Homo sapiens: one gene and its partner. The protein of the gene in region 2 purifies or fractionates together with the protein of the main gene of each other region. This does not show direct contact. Each region holds a gene or a part of one and is shown on either strand. Other genes may lie near its edges.

Region 1 (3,652 bases), on a different chromosome or scaffold from region 2:
CTTACCCGATTCCCCTACACCACTAAGAACTTCCTGGGGTAAAATGTAAGTCTTCTCTGTTTAGGGCACATAGTAGACTCTCAGCAAATGTTCACTGAATGCACAGAGTCTTTAGATAAATCAAACACATCCCCTCCTCTGTATGGCCTTCCCCAAGCACAGGCCCCTCCCTAAAGTGTGTGCGGCGTTATCAGATTGGTGTGAATGTTAATCTCTTTAAAGGAAGCAGGAATTTATCTGTACTCCATTTGGATCCACCCCCCACCCCCCCCCTCCACCTGCATGGACCTGGCACAAGGCTCATCTGACTACTTCAACCCCAACCCAAACACATCGTCAAAGGACCATCACCAGAGAACCTCATTTTCTTATGGGACTGTATCCTGCTGCCACCCTCCTCTGCATATACAATGTGGTATCACTGTGCACCCTAATTCTCTACAAAAGTCTTGGCAGGTGAGGCGTTATGTGGGAAGCCCACGGGAATTACCCTAAACCTGACCAAGAGAATAAATAAGGCAGTCACTGTTTGCCTCTGTTCTCTCCAGATCGAGGATACTTAAGATAGTTAATCTTCTGTGGTCACATCCTCCTTCAAGAATTTTATAAAACCATGGTACAGATTTTTCCAGGAAAAATGACTGTTCACAAATTTTAGCCGCTAATTCAGGGGGCCATGATCTGGCAGTCAGGGCGAATGATGTGTGGCCACTCCAAGAGCTACGAATTAAGCCCCTGCCTCAGGCTTCCTCCATCTCACAGTCACAACCTGAGGCCCTATAACCTTTCAAACCTCCTAGGCAGAACAGGCACACATGCTTGTGAGACTACCTCCGCTCCCCACACGCTCTTTCTCACCCTGAGGAGTTGTCTTACCTTCAACCAGCAAAAGAACCAATTAAGGACTGTGGTATCTAACCTCTGAATTGGAAAGAGAAGGAGAACCACAGGATAATATCCAGCTCAAGGAAGGTATGGGATGGCGGGGCTGGGGAAAGGTCCCAGAAAGTAGGAGGAATGTGGGGAAAACAGGGTTGGGGGAGAGTTGCTCACAGTGGGGAAAGGAGTTGAAGAGGGCTTAGGCCTTTCAAGCATCTGGAGAGTTTCTTCAAAATGAGGATTATCTGGCCCCACCCTTAGGAATCTTTATTCAGGAGGTGGGACCTAGAGAAACCCCCAAGCAATTGTGATGCAATGGTCGGACCATCTGGGTACAACTTTGAGATAATTCCAGGGAGTTAAGAAAGAGCCTGAGGTCCTGCAAACTCTTTTTTTTTTTTGAGACAGAGTCTCACTCCGTTGCCAGGCTGGAGTGCAGTGGTGCGATCTGGCCTCACTGCAACCTCCACCTTTCGGGTTCAAGCAATTCCCCTGCCTCAGCCTCCCAAGTAGCTGGGACTACAGGCACGTGCCACCACGCCCGGCTAAATTTTTTTTTTTTTTTTTTTGTATTTTAGTAGAGACGGGGTTTCACCGTGTTGGCCACAATGGTCTCGATCTCCTGACCTCATGATCTGCCCGCCTCGGCCTCCCAAAGTGCTAGGATTACAGGCGTGAGCCACCGCGCCTGGCCCGGTCCTGCAAACGTTTTTTTTTTCTTGAGACGGAGTCTTGCTCTGTTGCCCAGGCTGGAGTGCAGGGGCGCGATCCCGGCTCACTGCAAGCTCCGCCTGCCAGGTTCACGCCATTCTCCTGCCTCAGCCTCCCGAGTAGCTGGGACTACAGGCGCCCGCCACCATGCCCAGCTAATTTTTTTTTTTTTTTTTTGTATTTTTAGTAGAGACGGGGTTTCACCGTGTTAGCCAGGATGGTCTTGATCTCCTGACCTCGTGATCCTCCTGCGTCAGCCTCCCAAAGTGCTGGGATTACAGGCGTGAGCCACTGCGCCCAGCCCCTGCAAACTTTTATCATCACCTTTGCCATCATAATCACTCATCATCATCATCATCTCAGCAAACACTAAGATTTTATCAGTACTAAGCATTTTACACACATGATCTCTTTCCTCCCAACCCTCTCAAATGGGTAGTATTTATTATTACACTCCTTCCCATACTACAGATGATCAAATGGGGGCTGAGAAAGAATAAACTGTCTTAAGTCACAGAAGTAGTATGTGGAAGAACCAGGACTTGAGAAACAAGAATGCCTCTTCACATCCCAGAGTCTGGGGGAAAGAAACAGAAATATCTGAGGCTAGAATCTGATTCCTGTTATGTCACACCCGCCTCCCCACCATTCCTGGACTGCCAACCTTGCCCCGTAAGGAGGGAATAAGAAACAGTGGGCCTAAGGGTCAAGGAATGAACCAGCCCAGGCTTCCTAGGCTGCTGCTGTTCACCCAGGGGCCCGTAGAAATGCAGGAAGAGAGCCAGGGTGGCCTGGAAGGGCAGGAGCAGCAATAAGGAGGCCTTCCCTCACCCGTGTTCCCACCATCTCTGAACTTTGTCCCCAGCAGTTGGGCACTGGGAGTCATTAATCCCACACAGCAGCCTTTGATACATGCAGCGCCTTATCTGCCCTTCCCCGGGCCCTGGCTGCCTTCCTGGGCAACGGTGCCCTACCTCCCCCCAGTGACATGGGCACCCAGGACCCTGAGAAGCCAGAGCCTGAGGGGGAACAGGCGCAGGGACCCATGTCCCTCAGATAGAGGAGCAGAAGTGCCGTCAGGGGTGTAGGAGTAAGGGATAAGGAGGGGACGGAGTCCCAGAAAAGCTGAAGGAAATACTGTCTGTGTCAACATCTGGGAAGGGATGAGAACAGAGGTGAGAGTTCACCCGGAAACTTCACTTCCAGCCCACCCCGGGGACCAAGGTCCATTTTGCTGAGTGCTGTGGCCAGAGAAAAAACACACAGAGGCAGCCACCACTGTCCCAGTAGCCAGGTCAGCTCTGACTCCCCACCCTCACCCCAGCACTGTTACACAACGGTCACTGCCGCGGGCACAAAACACCAAGGGACAAACGGACTGTCGCGGGGAGAGGGGAAGAAAATGGGGTTGCGTGGGGTGGAGCTGAACAGAAGCCTCCCACAGAGAGCAAGTGTGCAGACCTCAGCTCCTCTCCCCTCTCTCCCACAACCCTCTATTAGCCTCTGCAGGGCTTCTGGGCACCTGCATGTCAGATCGTTGGGGTTAGAACCCTCGCTCCACCACTTCCTAGCTGTGTGACATTAACCAAGTGAATTTACTTTTCTGAACCTGTTTCCATACTGTGAAATGGAAATAATGAAACCTGCCTCTTGAAATTATTTGGGAGAATTAAATGAGATCTCATGCCTATAAGGTCTATTACATTAAGGTCTATTTACATTACATGTAAAGGACAAATCATTTTTTTTTCTAAGTCTTCTAATTGCTGAATAGACCATTTTATTTCCAGCATCGGGCACACAGTGGGTGCTCCTTGGTTCGATGAATAAACAAGCCAATCCCCTCGCTGGTTGGTAAGTCCTATGAAGGCAATGATGGTATGTCTCTTACTACTGCATCCTCACCACCCACCATGGACCCTGGCAGATAAAAGGTGCTCAATACATTGTTGAACAGAATCTCTGCACCAACTATCCTTGCTCACGGCAGGGGCAGCCCTCACCTTCTTCTTTCCCTACACCCCTCCCCGAACCCTGATTCCCACTTAGCTCCTCCCCCACC
Region 2 (3,652 bases):
CAAGGCGCGTGGATCACCTGAGGTCAGGAGTTCGAGACCAGCCTGGCCAACATGGAGAAACCCCATCTCTACTAAAAATACAAAAGTAGCCAGGCATGGTGTCAGGTGCCTGTAATCCCAGCTAGGCGGGAGGCTGAGGCAGAAGAATCGCATGAACCCAGGAGGCAGAGGTTGCGGTGAGCCAAGATTGCACCAGTGTACTCCAGCCTAGGCAACAAGAGCAAAACTCCATCTCAAAAGAAAAAAAAAAAAAGAAAGAAAAGAAAAAGAAAATACGTATATGCAGAAGAAATACAGGAAGAACAAACCGGAAGCTAACAGAATTGGTTACCAAGAGGGAATGGGTGGGAAACAGCTGGAAAGAAGGGGAGGATGGGAAAGTGGTAGCAAGGATGAAGAAGCGATATACACATGCTCTGCCCCTTAGAACCATAGTATTCATATACCCAAAATACAAACAATTTAAATCAACCAGGATATAGGAGGAATATAAACATTAACAAAGAATCTAGCTGGATCCTAAATGAGTAATATCAGCCATAATGAAAAGAGTAGGGAAAAAGAGAACTACACTAAGAAACTATCTGGAAAAGAGTATCTGGGCTGGATACTGTAAAGCTAGAGATAAAAGGAACTTTACATAAACTTGTCAGTAAATGTCTTTCTCACAGGGATACGAGCTAACAATTTGAAACCACTTTGTGTGTACTTATATGCATACTCAAGTGAAACCAATAAGTAAATATGTTATAGATACAGATAATAAGAACCAGGTTTTTCCCTGTTGGAGGAAGAATTTTCAAATAAGACAAGGGGGAAAGTTAAAAATTAACTCTGTAGTGTTCAGTCCAGCCAGAATCCAAAATATCTGCATAATCTCATGGTTTAACACAAGAGTAGGTTGACAGACACGGAACTACAGACTCATGTACATGCATGGGTTGGTATACATATGTATATTCCCTAGCTCTGTCCAGTAAGAGGCCTAGAGGTAACGGCACCGCGGTAGTAATGAGCATACCTAGTGCCCAAAGGTTGGTTTTCAAATACCTTTCTCAAGAAAAAGGAACCAGGGCTCACTGAGGGCAGAGAAAATACAAGATGACCCTAGAAGATAGAGCAGTACCATAAATTTTTAAAATGCTCAAAAAAAGATGAGGGCTTGTTGAGAGAACAAAGATGCCAACATGAAGGAGCTCAGAATGACCATACCTGAAACAATTTGAGCAGCAAAATAAATAAGGAGAGTGTTGGACTGTAACCTATGGAATAAGTATCCATGAGTCTGAACTGATCTAAATAAATAACTAAATAAATAAATGGGAGAGAAAAGATAGTTGGTCCTGACAGCAGAATTCCAATGAACAAATATGGAGGGAATTATTTCGAAATATAAACATCGGGGCCAGGCGTGGTGGCTCACGCCTGTAATCCCAACACTATGGGAGGCAGAGGCAGGAGGACTGCTTGAGCCCAGGAGTTTGAGATCAGCCTGGGCAACATGGCAAAATCCCAACTCCAAAAAAAATAGAAAAATTAGCTGGGTGTGGTGGCATGTACCTGTAGTCCCAGCTACTCAGGAGGCTGAGATGGGAGGATCATTTGAGCCCAGGAGGTTGAGGCTGCAGAGAGCTGTGATTGCACTACTGCACTCCAGCCTGGGCAACAGAGCTAGACCCTGTCTCAAAAAAATAAATAAATAAATACATAAAAATAAAAATTAAAAAAAAATCAGCATTTGGCAAAAACCACTTTCTTGTTACAGGCAAGAAACATCAATGGATGCTAAAATGAATGAGCAGAAGGTTGAAATGGATACTTACATAGTCTCAAAGTACCTTCTCCAAAATACTAACCACAAAGGGAAATACAGTAACTTTAAAGTAGAGATAGCAATAGGAAACCACCATAACCGAGTGATCACAGCCAACATCATCAGTAATATCTTACCAATCTTATATAATAATATATATAATTATATTATATAACATATTATAATATATAATATCTTCTTATCAAAATGTGGAACTTCCATCCAACCAAACCCAAATCAAAAGGTATTAACTGATTAATGCTCTTGGAAAATGTCAAGGTCATGAAAGACAAGGGAAGATGAACTACTGCAGACTGCAGAAGGCTAAAGAGAAAAAATAACTAAATGTAATGTGCGATTGTGGATGGGATCCTGGAATAGAATAGGCCTTGGTGGAGAAACTGATAAATTTTGAATAGGTCATTAATTTAGTTGATTGAATTGTATCAATGTTAATTTCCTGGTTCTGACAATTAAACCATGGTTATATAAATTAGAGAAAGATGGGTGAAGAATGTATAGAAACTTCCCATACTATTTCTGTAGCTTCTGAGGTCTAAAATTAGATCGAAATAAAAAGATTTTTAAAAAGGTTGCGTTACATGATCCAGTCTATTTCTAAAAGGATTCTATTCATTTAACTAAACTATTTGAAGAGCTAAACTATTCATCTAGCATCATAAATATTTCAATCATGAGTTCAGATTATGAAGATTTTTTAAAATGCAAAGAGAAAAATTGAAGAAATATAAATTTGCAGTTATAAGTTAAGTGCCTTTAATCTCTAGACATCAGGTATAATCACCTTCTGTTTGATCTAACCTTGTTTAATTCTCCAGTCCTAAAGAACTCACCTTGACATTCTTGTTTGTCAAGGGTTCTATCGGTTGGGACAGTGCTCTGAAATGTTAGGTTATGGAAACATGACACTATGGTTTGTTATCTCTGCTCCAGGCATTGAAAGCTATTAATTATCTGCATAAGTCAATCATTCTCATTAGAAATTTATTGTTCAACATTCTAAGGACACAATTATCTCCTCTCTGCTCCAACTCTGTCCAGTCTCTCTGAGAGTAAAAGATGGGAATGAAAAAGAGGTAGTCACACATATTACGTTCAAAATGGTTTCATTCCATCAAAAAGAATTTCCTGCATCAGGTCTGCTTGTATTATAGTCTTACAATGCTACACATATTTATTCCTCTAGTACTTTTCATAAAAGTGTTATATATTATTTCATATTCTTTTTATATTTTATAAATATAAGAACACACCTGGCTCTGTCAAGTAACTGACAAATCTCTTTAAAAGATGCCAAAACATTTTTTCTTTTCCAGCTCTAAACAATTAAAAACTTTAGACATGTTTGCAGTTTTTGAATATTAAAAGTTGCTGTATTTATGGTCCCCTATTTGTAAAATGAATCTAGAACGGGATTCTTACCCTCATGCAGAAATCTTGCAATACAGTGCTTGCACACCTGAAGTCACAAATTTAGGATAAAAAAAATCACATAACACACAAACGCTACTTTTCCATACTTACTTCATTTCATTTACTTGTCTCAGAATCTCATGCTGAGTTTTCACAACAGTATCCAGTTCTTGTTGAGTAATCTGGAGGAAGAAACAATGACGAGCAAGCTGAATAATCCACATTCTATGAGCACATAGTACAGTTGCCCTTCTTCTTTACTTCCCTTCCAGCAAAGGGTAAATGGGGCACATCTGCATATTCTGCAAGCCCACCTGCCCATGCTGCCCAGGCATTCCTGCTCCTCTTTTAGAGATTTCCTCTGTTAAGGAAGAGACATATCTTCTCTGTTCATCAAGAATCATA

Evidence for each region.
Region 1: the proteins of LMAN1 (region 2) and PCDH1 fractionate together in Homo sapiens (co-fractionation; one large-scale study listed by BioGRID). This does not show direct contact.

Annotation. Positions count from the first base shown.
Region 1 is NC_000005.10:141,871,865-141,875,516, forward strand, and holds part of PCDH1 (protocadherin-1 isoform 2 precursor), read right to left. Parts: intron 1-3,652. UniProt on the Homo sapiens protein: May be involved in cell-cell interaction processes and in cell adhesion.
Region 2 is NC_000018.10:59,335,199-59,338,850, forward strand, and holds part of LMAN1 (protein ERGIC-53 precursor), read right to left. Parts: coding exon 3,562-3,652; intron 3,430-3,561; coding exon 3,359-3,429; intron 1-3,358. UniProt on the Homo sapiens protein: Mannose-specific lectin. May recognize sugar residues of glycoproteins, glycolipids, or glycosylphosphatidyl inositol anchors and may be involved in the sorting or recycling of proteins, lipids, or both.